2 separate regions of the Homo sapiens genome follow, and region 2 is linked to region 1. A link means that fine-mapping ties the variant in region 1 to the expression of a gene that starts in the linked region. Tissue or cell type: putamen. Region 1 holds a variant in brackets; the other region holds the start of a gene. All regions are shown on one strand. Distances are between the middles of the regions.

The links. PIP is the estimated chance that this variant, and not a neighbour inherited with it, causes the effect.
Region 2: it holds the start of SPAG9, and the variant in region 1 is fine-mapped to the expression of SPAG9 in putamen (GTEx, PIP 0.95).

Annotation. Positions count from the first base shown.
Region 1 is chr17:51,333,511-51,341,770 of GRCh38, forward strand. LINC02071 (long intergenic non-protein coding RNA 2071) reads right to left here and starts at 1,652. Exons shown (of 6, transcript NR_110751.1): 1 at 836-1,652; 2 at 202-608. LINC02072 (long intergenic non-protein coding RNA 2072) reads left to right here and starts at 3,205. Exons shown (of 3, transcript NR_122104.1): 1 at 3,205-4,410; 2 at 6,097-6,214; 3 at 7,741-8,260. The variant T/G (reference allele first, on the strand shown) is at 4,026.
Region 2 is chr17:51,117,026-51,125,025 of GRCh38, forward strand. SPAG9 (sperm associated antigen 9) reads right to left here and starts at 3,843. Exons shown (of 30, transcript NM_001130528.3): 1 at 3,329-3,843. The coding sequence starts at 3,631. RefSeq lists silencers at 3,096-3,225, 3,246-3,325, 3,576-3,955 and enhancers at 3,356-3,475, 3,765-4,579, 4,096-4,325, 4,935-5,194.

The sequences.
Region 1 (8,260 bases):
AGCTGATTAAATTCTAGTTCCCCATGATGCATGGAACTTGCTTGAGGACTGGTGGAGTACCTGGACTATAGACTTCATTCTGAAATCCCACCAACTCCCAAAGAACCCATCATACAGCCCATGGTGCATGCACACTCCAGGTACCACTACCATATGACTACAGGCCCAACCACCACCTCTTGAAAGCCAGAGTGGACCTACCTCTCTTGAGGCTGGCCTTGTAGCCAATCTAGTTGGCTTCTGTGTGTTCCATAGCCTTGCCATGTGCCTTGGACCATGCAATATTGATGATGATACAAGTAATCCTTTAGTGAGCACTTATCAGTGTACCGGGTGCTGTGCTAAATGTGCTTCAAACAACATTTCATTGAACTCCCACGACTCAATGAATTCATTTCTATTGCAGATGAAGCCTCTGAGAAGTTAGGTAATTTTTCTCTAGGTTACAGTGCAAGTAAGTACAAGAGCCAGGACTAAAACTCAGGCTTGTTAGAAGTGTCCAAAATCCATGTTCCTAATGACTTGTAGCATGAGGGTTCCCAGAAGCTAGCTCTGAGATGGAGATTTGTATGCAGGAGATTTACGAGGAATGTGCTTCGGATCAACACCTGTGGAAAGAATGAGTTGGAAGCAGGATGGGGCAGATGAAGAAGCTGAGCACTGATGAAGTCCCAGTGAAAGCCTCAGCTAGCCCCCAGGGAACTCTGAAGCTGGGATGGCCCTTTAGAATCATCCTGTTGTGATATAGAAGCTGGAAAGAGGAGAAACCTATAAAATAATTAAGAAACAATTCTATGTCATCACTCCAGGGAAGCTCGTTAATTTATTCACTTACTTGCCCACTCATTCTTTGATTCACTCATTCATTCATTCAGTGTGCCAGATTCGGTGCTGGATTCTGGGGGACAAGGTACAAAGTGAAGTTTACAGTCAACACGGAGATGATGAACACATGAGCTAGCAGAACACAGTCTTACGGGTGCTCAGATAGAGATGTGCACAGGGTTCCATGAGAGAATGGACGTGGGGATGCACTGAAAGCAAGTGGGAGGAGCCAGGATGTTGCTGCCTCCTCAGAGGTGACTGGGCTTTCCTAGGGCAGGGGAAGAAGGGCATTCTGGGCCCAGGGGAAAGACTGAGCTTTTTAGTTTTCTCCAGATGGGTTTTTTTTTTTTTTTTTTTGAGACAGAGTCTTGCTCTGTTGCCCAGGCTGGAGTGCAGTGTCACAATCTTGGCTCACTGTAGCCTCTGCTTCCCAGGTTCAAGCAATTATCCTGACTCAGCCTCCTGAGTAGCTGGGATTACAGGCGTGTACCACCGTGCCTGGCTAATTTTTGTATTTTTAGTAGAGATGGGGTTTCACCATGTTGGCCAGGCTGGTCTCAAACTCCTGACCTTGTAGATCTGCCTTCCTCAGCCTCCCAAAGTGCTGGGATTACAGGCGTGAGCCACTGTGCCCAGTCTCAGATAGGGTTATCTTAGTTAATTTGGGCTCCTGTAACAAAAGTCAAGACAGAGTGGCTTGTAAACAACAGACATTGACTTCTTATAGTTCTGGAGGCTGGAAGTCAGATCAGGGCCACAACAACTTTCTGGTTAGGGCCCTCTTCTGGGTTGCAGACTGCTGACTTCTTATCCTCACATGGCAGAAAGAGCTAGAGAGCTCTCTGGGGTCTCTTTTATGAGGCACTAATCCCATTCATGACAGCTCCACCCTTATGACCTAATTACTCCCAAAGGCCCCACCTCCATTATCCCCTTGGGGGTTAGGATTTCAATATATGAATTTTTGGGAAACACAAACATTTAGCCCATGACAGGGGCCAAGGGAGTGAGGTGGGATCAGAAACCAAGGCCCTCAGATGTGTGTGTGGCAGGGAGGGTGGTGGGTAAGAAACTCATCAGTGCGGTTTCTGCACACGCCCTGTTTATCCAGGCCCTTTGATTCTCCCCAAGAGGGAGGAGACCAGCGAGGAGACCAGCATTGGGCAGAACAGAGAAAAGAGGTGGCAAATTATTACCCATTAAGTTCCAGAGCCACAGAAGCAGTTATAAAGTAGAAAGATTTGGGAAGAAGGTGTGATCAGCAGAAAGCAGATTTTCTTCCTCCCCTTCTGCTGGGACAGATGAAGATGTGGCGGGCACGGGGGATGGATGTAAGAGAAGCTGTGGTAGGGAGGGCTGACTAGGAAAAAATGGATGGTGGGGAAAACATACTAGTTAGCTCTTCAAAATTTATCCCAGTGCAGAGGAGTGCAGGTGAACGGACAGGAGATAAAGAGAGCAGATGAATCTCAGGGGCCAGGGACAAACCAGTAGTCAGGGCAGTGGGAGCCTGACACCAAAGGGGTGTGTCTCTGCCGGGGTCTGTGGACTTCAGGCTGGTGTTGGGTCCAGGAGGGTCTGACCCTGCAGTGGTGGACCAAGGTGGGGCTGAGGGGGTGAAGGGTGAGAGCACAGGCCTTCAAGAAGGTAAAGAGTTTGCCCATGGAGAAGAGGACATAGCGGAATCTACAAGAGGTCCTATCAGCTACCCCATGCTTGCTTCTAGGAACAAGGACACGTGGTCAGAGGCACAAGGGAGTAATTGTCAGGGATCCAAGTCACTTGCAGAGGCCTTTCTGAATGGTGGGTTCTGAGGTGGCTGTATCCAGGTGTGGCGTCTCCACCCTTGGCCTTGCATGGAGAACCCAGGAAGCGAAGCTACAAGGGCAAAGCAGAAGGATGGGGATGTAGGCAGTGACTGTGTCCCCCTAAAATTCATATTGATGTTCTAATCCCTGGTACCTTGGAATGTGAATGTATTTGGAGATAGGGCCACTAAAAATGTCATTAAGATAAAATGAGCTCATGTGGTGGGTCCTAACCAATATGACTGGTGTGTTTACAAGAGATTAGGACACAGAAAACACACAGGCAGAGAGATGATCATGTGGACACACAGCAAGCCAAAGAGAGAGGCCACCAAAGAAACCAACTCTCAGAGTTCTAGCCTCCCAATCTGTGAGAAAATAAATTCTGTTGTTTAAGCCACCCAGCCTGTGGTACTTTGTTATGGCAGACCTGGCCAACTGTGAACAATGGCCATTTGATTTCTTCTCTCAGTAGATTCCAGGCATGCTGTCATTGCTTTGCAGATGCTTACTGAGCACTTGCTGGGTCCTGCACCCAGCTGGCTGCTAGGGATAGTGAGGGGCACGAGGCACTCTCTGCCCTTGCAGAGCTCACTGGAGGAATAAACCTTTGTAGAGGAAGGTTTGATGGGCTTTCCTGGAAGAAGTACTCATAGGAAAACCCAAAAGCTCAACAGATGCTGTCTCCTTGGTTAACATTAGGAGCTATGATCTCCATCTTCCCATGGCATTAGAGGTTTAGATACTGAGGATCAGAGAGGCAAGTTCAGCATCAGAAGGCAGGAAGAGGCAGAAATCTGGACACCGATTCCTAACTCTAAAGCTGCGTCATCTCTAGTGCATCTCATCAGCTCTTCCCAATGGCACCAATCAACTTTAGCATACTGGCCAGCCGGAATAGATGTCCTTGGGCATTCTTAAGATCTGAGACTGTGATGGTTAATTTTAGGGTATCAGCTTGACTGGGTTGAGGAATGCCTCAGTGGCTGGTGGCGTCCATCATTCCTGGGTGTGTCTGTGAGAGTGTTTCCAGAGGAGACTCACATGTGAGCCAGCGGGCTGAGAAGGAGACCCGTTCTCAGTGTGAGTGTGCACTGTCCAATCAGCTCAAGGCCAGGCTGGGGACAAACAGGCAGAAGAAGGAGGATTCTCTCTCCCACCTTTCTGGAGCAGGATGCCTTTTCTCCTTGGACATCAGACTACAGGGTCTTTGGCTTTTGGATTCTAGGACTTGTACCAATGGCCTCCCGGGGCCCTCAGGCCTTCAGCCTCCAACGAAGGTCTGTGCTGTTGGCCTCCCTGATTCTGAGGCTTCTGGACTTGGACTGAGGCATGCTACGGGCTTCTCTGATTCTCCAGCTTGTGGATGGCCTATCATGGGACTTCTCCACC[T/G]CTGTAATCACAAGGGCCAATGCCCCCTAATACCTTTCTTTTCATATATCCTACTGGTTCTGTCTGCCTGGGGAACCTTGACTAATACAGATATGGAGCATTTGAAATGAGAGGATTTCTGATCCTGTTCTTCAAGAAGCAGTAGGTCAGAGCATACCTCTTTAAAATAACTTCTGGATAGTTTCACAGTTAGAAAGAATCAGCTTCAGGTGATCTTGAAGATCCCACTTGGATTCCACTCTCCAGCTCTCAGGAAGCTCTGGCTTCCTTACTTCTTCTGGGATTTTCCTTTCATGCTGGGGAGAGATGCTCCCTCACCACTACCCAGCCCATGGGACACACCGAGTCTGGTGGAGGATGCTGTGACCTGTGGTGCTTGTGATTGGTAAGCCTTGGGGCACTTGAGGGAGGGAGAGGAGAAGGTGGCTGCTTGATAAGAAAGATGAGATGCATATAATTGCCACTGATATTTGCAGCCGCTGTAAATCCCCTCAAAGAGACCCTGAATCTCTAATGGGGCACTTTCACAGGGAGATGGGATCCAGCTTGATTAATCAATTGTGGCTTCATTAGTTTCTCCCTGATATTTAATAGTAGTTAAAACCCAGCCCTCCAGGACCGGGCTTAGGCCACCCACACCAAGAGGAAAAGTGTCAGCCTGGGAGGGCTCAAGTCAACAAGGGACGGGGCTGGTTTTCCTCCTGTTAGGAGCAAATCTGTTCTCATGCTTCATTACTTAATCAGTTGCTACAAGGGAAGATTAGATACAAAGATAGAGGATTAAACAAAAAACACTGGTAGTAAGACACTTAGAAAGTAGGGGAGAGAGAGAGCTGGCATTTACAGAACACTCAGATCCCTCCTGAGCTTGAACCTTCTGGATTCTTCCTGAACATCTCTCTGCTATACATATATCACCTCATTTAGTCTTCATCAAGAGCCTCCGATTATTTTATTTATTTATTTATTTATTTGAGACAGGGTCTTGCTGTCACCTAGGCTGGAGTGCAGTGGTGTGATCTTGGCTCACTGCAACCTCTGCCTCTCAGATTCAAGTGATTTTCCTGCCTCAGCCTCCCGAGTAGCTGGGACTACAGGCGTGTGCCACCATGCCAGCTAAAATATATATATATATATATATATATATATATTTTTTTTTTTTAGCAGAGACGGGGTTTCACCATGTTGGCCAAGCTGGTCTTAAACTCCCGACCTCAGGTGATCTGCCCGTCTTGGCCTCCCAAAGTGCTGGGATTACAGGCATGAGCCACTGCATACAGCCCATTTTATTATTTTTCTTTTAATTTTTTTGAGACAGGGTCTGGTTGTGTCATCTAGGCTGGAGTGCAGTGGCACAATCTTGGCTCACTGCAGCCTCTCCCTCCTGGGCTCAGGCGATCCTCCCATCTCAGCCTCCAGAGTAGCTGGGACCATAGGCACATGCCACCACGCTTGGCGAATTTTTTGTATTTTTAGTAGAGATGGGGTTTTGCCATGTTGCCCAGGCTGGTCTCCAACTCCTGAGCTCGAGAGATCCATCTGCCTCAGCTTTCCAAAGTGCTGGGATTATAGGCATGAGCTACCACGTCTGGCCTGATTGTTCATTTTAGAGAGAAGAAATGGAGACCCAGGGAGCTTAAGGATTTTGCTTGGCTGCCCAGGTGTAAGGATTGTGGAAGTCTAAGTTTATGTTCTTCATACTCTTCCAGTGCAGCCCAAACATTCAAAATCAGGGGTCGGCATACTACAGACTGCAGGCTAAATCCACCACACTGCCTGTTTCTGTGTGATCTGTGATCTAGGAATGGTTTTTACATTTTTTTTTCCTCTTTTTGAGACGGTCTTGCTCTGTCACTCAGGCTGGAGTGCAGTGGCACAACCTCTGCTCACTGCAGCCTTCACTTCCTGGACTCAAGTGATCCTCCAACCTCAGGCCCCGAAGTAGCTGGGACTACAAGTACACACCACCATGCTCAGCTACATTTTTTTTTTTTTTGTAGAGACAAGGTTATTTTTAAATTGAATGGCAAACTATCCATTGAGTATAACTTTTTTTTTTTTTTAAATACAGCGTCTTACTGTGTCGCCCAGACTGAAGTGCAGTGGTACAGTCTCAGCTCACTGCAACCTCGGCTTCCCAGGCTCAAGCAATCCTCCTGCCTCAGTATCCCAAGTAGCTGGGAAAACAGGTGAGCACCACCATGCCCAGCTGATTTTTGTATTTTCTGGAGAGACAGGGTTTCACCATGTTGCCCAGGCTGGTCTTGAACTCCTGGGTTCAAGTTATCTGCCTGCCTCAGCCTCCCAAAGTGCTGGGATTACAGGCGTGACCCACCACACCCAGCCTACATTTCTTTATTTTAAATATGTAATTTATTCCACATTCTAGATATTATTTCCTTACTCTGGCTTTTGTTTATAAGCTGAATCCCTGAAACAAATGGAGAAACTATTCCGTGGATAACAGCACTTCTTTAATTTGAAAGATATAATTTTGCCTATATTCTCAATATTATTTCCTTTCTTTGGTATTAAATATAAGTTGAATACTCGGTACGGAGTAAGGGGCCTACCACGTAATAGGTGGTCAATATATGTCTTGAATAAATATTGAATAAATATAAAAGCAACATTTAACCTACTAAATCATAGTTTAGAAATTTCCTTTATTCTGATCTATAACAATCATTCAATGCAGTCCTACTGCATTAAACTTTTTAAAATGTTTACTTCTACAGTTGATATACAGTGTTATAATAAATTCTGACAGCATAAATTAAATCAATAGAAAAACTATTGTCCAGGCTGGTCTTGAACTCCTAGGCTCAAGTGGTCCTCCAGCCTTGGCCTTCTTGGCTGCAGTGAGCCGAGATTGCACCACTGCACTCTAGCCTGGGCAGCAAAGCCAGACCCTCTCTCAAAAAAATAAAAATAAAATAAAATAAAATGAATAATCAGAAGCCCTTGGTGAAGATTAAATGAGGGCACAGGCATGAGCCACCGCACCTGACCTTTTAACATTTTTTAATGGTTAAAAAAATCAAAAGAATAATAATATTTCATGACACATGAAAACTGATATTCAAATTTTGGTGTCCATTAATAAGTTTTATTGGAACACAGATCTGCTCATTTACTTATGGATTACCTCTGGCTGCTTTTGCCCCACCATGACAGAGTTGAATAGTTTTCACAGAGACATTGTGGACAGCAATGCTTAAAAATATGTAGTAACTGGGCTTTTACAGAAAAAGCTCACTAACCCCATTCAAACTGATTCCCAGTCATCCTAAATGACAGGAAAAGATGGATTGAGTTCAGACATGGATGCACACTTTATTGATAACCAACTTTGTTAGACATAATTAAACACTCAAAATTTCAGAAACATCAAACACTGTTCCATTACCAGCCAGGAATGGTCCCATGAGGGTTTTAGGATTTATAAGCATCATTAAATGTTGCAGTAGAGACTTCTCAGCCACTTCAATGATTTGCCTTGAAGGTACTTAATATTTTCAAGTAAATGCCAGGGTTGGAGTTTTGAGTGTAACTGGAAGAGTTTGCTAATTTCTTTGTCCCTGGATTATCATATGCATGTGATTACTGCAAAAAAAAAAAAAAGTTTATACTTTCCCCAAAGTTGCTCAGCTCAGGGTTTGTGGCTGCCTAATTTATGAATGGTGGTGGTATACATCATGTTTGTCCCTTTCAGGTAAAAGGGAAGCAAAGGAAGAAAGAAGAAAAGAAGACAACCCATGTAGGATGTTAACCAGGTCACTGGTTTTATTGTCACATGCTTTTAAAAGAACATGCATGAGTGAGCTGTCTCACTTTCCAATCCAAGAATGTTTGATTCCACTGTGATGAAAAATTCTGTGACCTGGCAGGAAAACACTACAAGAAGGGCAGAAGCGGAAAATTCTTTCTATTTTCCAATATGGCTTTCTTTGATTCAAGAAAGGCCTCCTCTCCTCCACATCTCTGTCCTGCTCATGACCCCAGAAGATCTCAGGTTGACTGCATTTGTTCTATGCCTTCCTCAAGCTTCACCTCTTCTGTGAGCCTCCTGGGTGGGCTCCTTCTGGCTAAATCTTCCTCCTCACTGTTGCCTTTTTATCTTATGCAAGCACCTGCCTTATCTAAAGGTACATACCTTTTCATAGAACACTTGCCTGTTTACCTAGCTATTTCCCCATGACTATGGGCTTTTTGAGAGGTGCTGTGTTATTTAT
Region 2 (8,000 bases), 220 kb before region 1:
TTTCTTGATTAGCATCTGAAACCGGTCCAAATCTATCTAAAATTAGCCCTTCTTTAGGTTGTTTTTAAAGAATCCCTAAAACAGCAGACTAGCTCCACACTAGAAATTCAAATAAAAGCAAAGGAAAAAGTCAGAAGGTATTCAAAATATGTCCTATCAATATAAAGATTAAATTTTTGATGCCTTGCTGAGAATTCCTGCAAGCAAGAGATCATAGCACCTCACACATTCCTAAAACATTCTATCTACATACCCACCTAAGTTTCCACAGAGGTGCTCAGAATTTACTTTACTCTCTCTGGTGATGGATAATTTCCATGCTTTCAAATCACTTTTGCTGTAAATACCCTGAGGCACTTACTTTGGTATAAAAGACTCTTGGTCTCCGCATTAAAGACACAAACAGGCCGGCACGGTGGCTCATGCCTGTAATCCCAGCACTTTGGGAGGCTGAGGCGGGCAGATCACGAGGTCAGGAGATTGAGACTATCCTGGCTAAAATGGTGAAACCCCGTCTCTACCAAAAATACAAAAAAATTAGCCAGGCGTGGTGGCACGTGCTTGTAATCCCAGCTACTCAAGAGGCTGAGGCAGAATCGCTTGAACCCGGGAGGCGGAGGCTGCAGTGAGTCAAGATTGTGCCACTGCACTCCAGCCTGGGTGACAGAGCAAGACTCCGTCTCAAAAAAAAAAAAAAAAAAAAAAAAGGCGCAAACAAAGCACTCACAGAAAACTAAACACAGAATTCACTCTACATATTGGCCAAAGGGAGACAATTTCTGGATACTGAGCAACACACAATTTATGATCTTATGTGAAAACTGATGGCCGGGTGTGGTGGCTCACATCTGTAATCCCAGTACTTTGGGAGGCTGAGGCGAGTGGATTGCCTGAGCTCAGGAGTTCAAGACCAGCCTGGGCAACAAGGTGAAACCCCGTCTCTACTAAAATACAAAATATATATACATATTAGCTGGGCGGGGTGGCACGTGCCTATAGTCCCAGCTACTCGGGCGGCTGAGGCAGAAGAATTGCTTGAACCCGGGAGGCAGTGAGCCGAGATCGTGCCACTGCACTCCAGCCTGGCGACAGAGAGAGACTCTGTCTCAAAAAAAAAAAAAAAGAGAAAAGAAAACTGATAACAAGGTGTGTTTATGTTTGTGGCCTGGGAGTGGGCTCATTTAGCATTTCATAAATGTTCTCTGTTCTCAGGTCATGACCCTTTGCCCAATGGTTTCACTATGGAGAATTTACAGATGTAACTGAAAAAATATAAACTACAAATAAATTCATTGGATAACCTATTTTTTTTAGAGTCATTTACTCAAGAAATTAATAGGGAACCCAGAGTCTAGCAGTCGGGCAATTTTGTTTTCTGATTCTGCAACCTGTGGCAGATGGTTTTCTTGGCACGTGTGACCCTGGCATTTTGCCCATATTTACACGGACTGACAGGAGTTTAAGGCTGGAGGGAGCATTTATTTTACGTGAGGTAAAAGGTCATGTCAGGCTTGCTTGTCACCTGTGTGTACATGTGGTTAATTCCCAGTCACTTCCATGTATATCCACACACTGGCAAGGGGCTATATGAGCATGAAGCAGCAAGTAGCACTTGACCTCTGTTCTATAAAGAGTGCTAACAAACAAGCGGAAATTGTGATCCTATCATTATTTGGTTTTTCATCCCTTCCTTCCCTATATGAAAGGAAAAGCTCTTGAAATAGTCCATTCTGGCGGGGTGCGGTGGCTCATGCCTGTAATCCCAGCACTGGGATGGTCAGCCCGAGGCCAAAGTGGGCAGATCACTTGAGGCCAGGAGTTCAAGACCATCCTAGGCACCATGGAGAAATCCTGTCTCTACAAAAAACAAAAATGAGCGGGGAGTGTTGTCCTAGCTCCTTAGGAAGCTGAGGCACAAGAATCGCTTGAACCCGGCAGGCAGAGGTTGCAGTGAGCCAAGATCACTCCACTGCACTTCACCCTGGGCGACAGAGTGAGACTACGTCTCAAAAAAAAAAAAAAAAAAAGGCAATTTTGTTTGGCAAATTCAATAGCATTCCTTTGAGAAAATTGGATCCCACAATCAGAACTAAAAATCATCACTACAGTCAAGCTTTTAAAAAAGGAAAAAGAACTATTTAACCAGATGCAAAGGTATACGTGACAAAATAAAACAAAAATTTAATGGTGTTACTATTCAGTGTCAGGAAATGAGCTACAAACCTCACATCCTAAAAACTCTTCAAGTCTTTTTGAAAAATACTATGTCATTCCTTCAATAATTAGTTATTTCGCCTCCTTTGATCACCATGTATTTAAGCAGGTGTGCTAGGTGCTTGAGAAACAAAAATAGGACACATCACCTGCCTTTGATAAGGTCCACAGAAATAACGCCAACGCAGGCTGAAAGCTAAACTCCTTGTCAGTCTCAAGAAGCCAAGGACCTATCACTTGCACCCTAGAACTCCAAAAGGTTCACAGAGTCGAGGTGAGGGCGCCCAGGTCACTGCTCGGGTGCTAGAGTTAACAGGTGGCCAAATGCACGTATAAACAGCAGTCTAAGAAGGAAACTCAGACGGAAAAAGTGTTGCCAACTGTCACCTACATCTTCCCAACCCCGCCCCCCAATCCTTTTTATAAATAAACGGAGGGTTTTTGAAGGGAACTGTCCAAGGTTACAACCTGATACGGAGGAATGCTTTGGTTTGGGATACCAACGAAATTGTTTATATATTTATTGAGTACTGCCACACAACATCTAAAAGTTGACAAAGTGTCAACCAAGGCACATAGAACATAAAATAAGACGTCTTTCTCAACAAGATTAAAACGTCAAGAAGAAACTGACCGAAAGAGGGAGATCTCTAACTTCCCAAAGCAAGGCAACCCCCTGGAAAGGTACTGGAACTAGCGGAAGTTACATATCCAGGGCAGAAGTGTCCCCCTCCCCAAGGGTAAAACTTTGAACCGCCATCTGACTATCCCACGGTGGTCGGAAACTTCCCTCAACAAGAAGCAACCAGACACCCAACAATCTCCGCCCTTGGCCAACCCCAGGTGTCCTCAGGCCAGGCTGCCGCTTCCTCCCCGGGCCCTGCCTCCTCCATCTCGCTCCCTTCCCAGGACACTCAGTAGCCGGCCTCGGCTTCCAACGCCGGCCTGGCTCCCGGGGTACCTGGAGGCCGCCGGGATCGGTCCCAGGGGGCATCGGCCTCAGGCCCGCCCTCCAGGAGGCCCGTCGCGCCTCTAGTCCCCGACCGGGCCGCGACCCCGCCCCGGCCGCCCCCGGAGACGGATCCCGCGGCCCCCGCCCTGCCGCCGGCCTCACCTCCTCAGCGTGCTTGCGCAGCGCCTTCTCCCGCTCGTACTGGGTGATGAGCTGCTCGTTGTCGTCCCGCAGCAGCTCCAGCTCCACCTGGTGCTCCTGGTCCTGCGCGAACACCGAGTCCAGGTTCTCCAGCACAGCCACCACCAGCGGCATCAGCTCTTTGACCACCTCCTCGTCATAGCGCCCGATAAGCCGCTCGAACTCGCGGTAGATGGAGCCGGCCAGGCCGGACACCCGCTCCGACATCACGGCCCCGGAGCCGCCGGGCTCCTCCTGATACACCACACCGTCCTCCAGCTCCATGGTGGCAAGCGGACGGGCGGGCGGCCCGGGGCGTCGCCGGCAGAGGGGCGGCACCTGCCCGCACGGGACGGACCCGACTCGGGCTGGGACGGGTACTAGGGCTGGAGCCCGGGCCGGGGCTGGGGCTGGGCCCGGCGGGGTGGGGGCCGGGGCCGGAGGAGGGGAGGGGTGGCGTAGGCGCTCTCACCCCAACCGCCGCTGCACCAACTGCCGGGGCGGCCCGGCCGCGCGCGCCACACGTCATCCGCGGGGCGGGGCCGGCGCCGCGTCGGCCCGATGGGCGGGGCGCCGCGGGAGGCCAGGCGCGGCCGGGGGCGGGGCCAAGCGTCTTCGGGCGCTGGCGGAGGAAGCCATGGCGTCAACACCCGGCGCCGCGAAGACGGTGCGGGCGCCAATGGGAAAGACTGCGGTCGGCGGGTGGGGAGAAGTATCCATCCACAGCGGGATTCGCGGGGCGGGTCCCAGGGGAAAGGGAGGGGTTCGGGAAGAGTGACGAGTTAACTTAGCTGGCATTTCTATGGCTTTTTAAAGCTCACAAAGCACCTACTCACTTCATCCCCACAACAGGCGTAAAGAGGTAGATATTTGGACCTCGTTTCACAGACAAAGAAACTAGGCCCAGGAAAGTGGCGTTGCTCTCAAGGTCACGCAGCTACAACGGGAAACGGGCTGAGCCGGGACTCAAACCAATTACCCAGATTGAGAATTCCGGGCTCCGAAAAAAACTGGAAACAGAAAGGGAGGGAAAAAAAACCATAACCAGGGTCTGCCCAAGTGGAAAGGTGGTCTCGAATAGAATAGAACTGTTTTGTGCTATGGAAGAGCAAGGGTGAGATGAGGGGAAATGGGAGTGACTGCTAATAGGTATGGGATTTCGTTTTGGGATAATAAAAATGTTCTAAAAAATGTATTATAGTGATGAATACACAACTCTAAATATGCTAAAAGACATTCAACTTTACACGTTAAGTGAGTGAATCATATGGCGTGTGAATTATATCTCAAGTTATTAAAAAATAAACAGGAAGGGTGATAGCATTCTGGAGAAGGGTGAAACTGGAACGTTACATGTGGCACTTTCCCACATAGTGTGTCTGCTACTTCTGGCCAACTTGGGACGGGGACATTTCCAGGCTCCAGCCACCCTCCTCTCCTCAAGTCTTGAAGTGGGGCGGAAAGGGTAAGTGGGAGGTTGGGGAACAGAGGAGGTAAGGGGTGGAGTCACTGGAGTGAATAAGTCCCATGACAAGTGAGGTTTCTGCCGCCTGGGAGAGTGTCACGTGTGGGGAATGACACAACGCCCACGCCTAGAGCGGGCTGAGTCAAGGATCCCGGTGTGCTCATCTAACGTCCGCAAATGGGACGGAAGACACTCTCAAAAGTCCCTTCTCTGTGTCTCAGGTGACTCAGCTCTCCGTCCCGACTCGTTTAAGAAAAGGGGGAGGAAAGGCAGGATAAACATAGGTTTAAGGGGAGAATTGGCCACCCACCGGGATCATAACTACCCTTAGCTTGGGGTTTACAAGTTTAAGTACTTCCCACCAAGTATGAAGTAGTCCCCTAAAGTTTCCTACGCATGACCCACCTGGAGACCCATAAAAACAATATGAAGGTTGGGCAAGAGTAAACCTATAAATTTGGAAGGACAAAGATGAAAATACTAAGTCTTATGAAGTGCCAGATGGGACTGAATTTGCGGCCTGTGTTTTTTCCCGTTCTCACCCTCACCCCACATTCACCCTTATGTCATTTAGATATTTGGGTAGTAGGAATGCCGACCAGCTGGTTGGCTGTGAGCCGCAAATGCCCTTTCTCTTCTTAACCTTTCATATTTGAAAACTAGAAAAAGTCTTGATCTGAATCTCTCCTCTTTTATTTTCTCTTCCTGAGGGCTGTCACTCACCTGGTCTACCTATATGCATGCCTCTCTTTTCCTGGGGGATCAGAAGAGCCAAAAAACATAGGGCAAGGCTTTACTTTTTCTTTCCACAATATTATCATACACATCAAAAAATTTAAAGAAAAAAGTATCAGCCGGGCGTGGTGACTCATGCCTGTAACCCAGCACTTTGGGAGGCCGAGGCGGGTGGATCACAAGGTCAGGAGTTCAAGACCAGCCTGAACAATATGGTGAAACCCCATTTCTACTAAAAAGTACAAAAATTAGTCGGGCATGGTGGTGCACACCTATAATCCCAGCTACTCAAGAGGCTGAGGCAGGAGAATAGCTTGAACCTGGGAGGCGGAGGTTGCAGTGAGCAGAGATCACACCATTGCACTCCAGCCTGGGCGACAGAGTGAGACTCCATCTCAAAAAAAAAAAGAAAAAAGAAAAAAGTATCGATTTTTCAAGTACGAGATTTTAATTGTCATTCCTAATAAGTATACTTCTTTAGGTATACGTTCAACATAGAAAGATACACACTTATGTCTTGATTTTAAGCTTCTGCCAGTTATCAGAGATAACATTTAGTTAAAATAAAATTCAGCTAAATAACCATCAGCTGATGAATGGATAAAATGTGACATAGGTATACAATGGACTATTATTTGGCAATAAAAAGAAAGTCGTTGGAGGGGAGGGGAGTAGGCGTGGTGGCTCGCGCCTGTAATCTCAGCACTTGCAAGAGGATGGCTTGTGCCATGAGTTGGAGACCAGCCTGGGCAACATAGTGAGACCTTCATCCCTGACAAAAAAAAAAAAAAAAATTTTTTTTGGCCAGGCACGGTGGCTTACACCTGTACTCCCAGCACTTTGGGAGGTCGAGGCGGGCGGATCACCTGAGGTCAGAGGTCAGATGTTCAAGATCAGCCTGACCAATATGGAGAAACCCTGTATCTACTAAAAATACAAAATTAGCCGGGCGTGGTGGCCCGCACCTGTATTCTTAGCTACTCAGGAGGCTGAGGCAGGAGAATCGCTTGAACCTGGGAGGCGGAGGTTGTGGTGAGCCAAGATCGAGCCATTGCACTCCAGCCTGGGCAACAAGAGCAAAACTCCGTCTCCAAAAAAAAAAAAAAAGAATAGAAAAGAAAACAAAAATTTTAAGTACATGCCATGACATAGCTGAATCTTTTTTTTTTTTTTGAGATGGAATTTCGCTCTTGTTGCCTAAGCTGGAGTGCAATGGTGCAACCTCAGCTCACCGAAACCTCCGCCTCCCAAGTTCAAGCGATTCTCCTGCCTCAGCCTCCCGAGTAGCTGGGATTACAGGTGTGCGCCACCACACCCGGCTAATTTTTTGTATTTTTAGTAGAAACAGGGTTTCACTACGTTAGCCAGGCTGATCTCAAACTCCTGACCTCAGGTGATCCACCCACCTTGGCCTCCCAAAGTGCTGGGATTACAGGCGTGAGCCACCATGCCCAGAGATACAGCTGAATCTTGAAAAAGCTAAGTGAAAGAAGTCAGTCACAAAGGACCACATATTGTACAATTCCATTCGTATGAAATGTGAATTTAGTGATTGGCTAGGTCTCAGGGGCATGAGAGGGTGAGATGAGGGGAAATGGGAGTGCCTGCTAATAGGTATGGGGTTTCTTTTTAGGATAATGAAAATGTTCTAAAAATTGATTATAATGGTGAATACACAACTCTGAAAATATGCTAAAAGACATTCAACTTTACACATTAAATGAGTGAATCATATGGTATGTGAATTATATCTCAAGCTATTAAAAAAATATATGAAGTAAAAGTTATGGCTGGTGGGGCGTGGTGGCTCATGCCTGTAATCCCAGCACTTTGGAAGGCCAAGGCGAGCAGATCACTTGAGGTCAGGAGTTCGAGACCAGCTGGCCAACATGGTGAAACCCCATCTCTACTAAAAATACAAAAATTAGCCGGGCATGGTGGCGTGCACCTGTAATCCCAGCTACTCGGGAGGCTGAGGCAGGAGAATCGCTTGAACTGGGAGGCAGAGGTTGTAGTGAGCTGAGATCATGCCATTGCACTCCAGCCTGGGCGATAGACCGAGACTCCATCTCAAATAAATACATAAATAAATAAAATTTATGGCTATAATGATTTTTATAGTAGACCCAATGAAAGCACATCACTCAGTATGATTGAGGTGAAAGAAACTGGTGTTGAAATTAGGAACCTTGTATTCTAGTATGGACTGGTCATTTTGAACAACTTAGGCCATAAACAAAAGAGCAAGTAGTTACTGATTACCCACTTAGTGACAGTCACAAGGATAAGGGCTGTAAACTTCAGCTTATTCATCCGTATGATGAAGGGGTTTGTTAGAAAATCTGTCCCAGCACTTTGGGAGGCTGAGGTGGGAGGATCAGTTGAGGGTAGGAGTTTGAGAGAAGCCTGGGCAACATAGCCAGAGCATTTCTGAAAATAAAAATAAAAAATAAA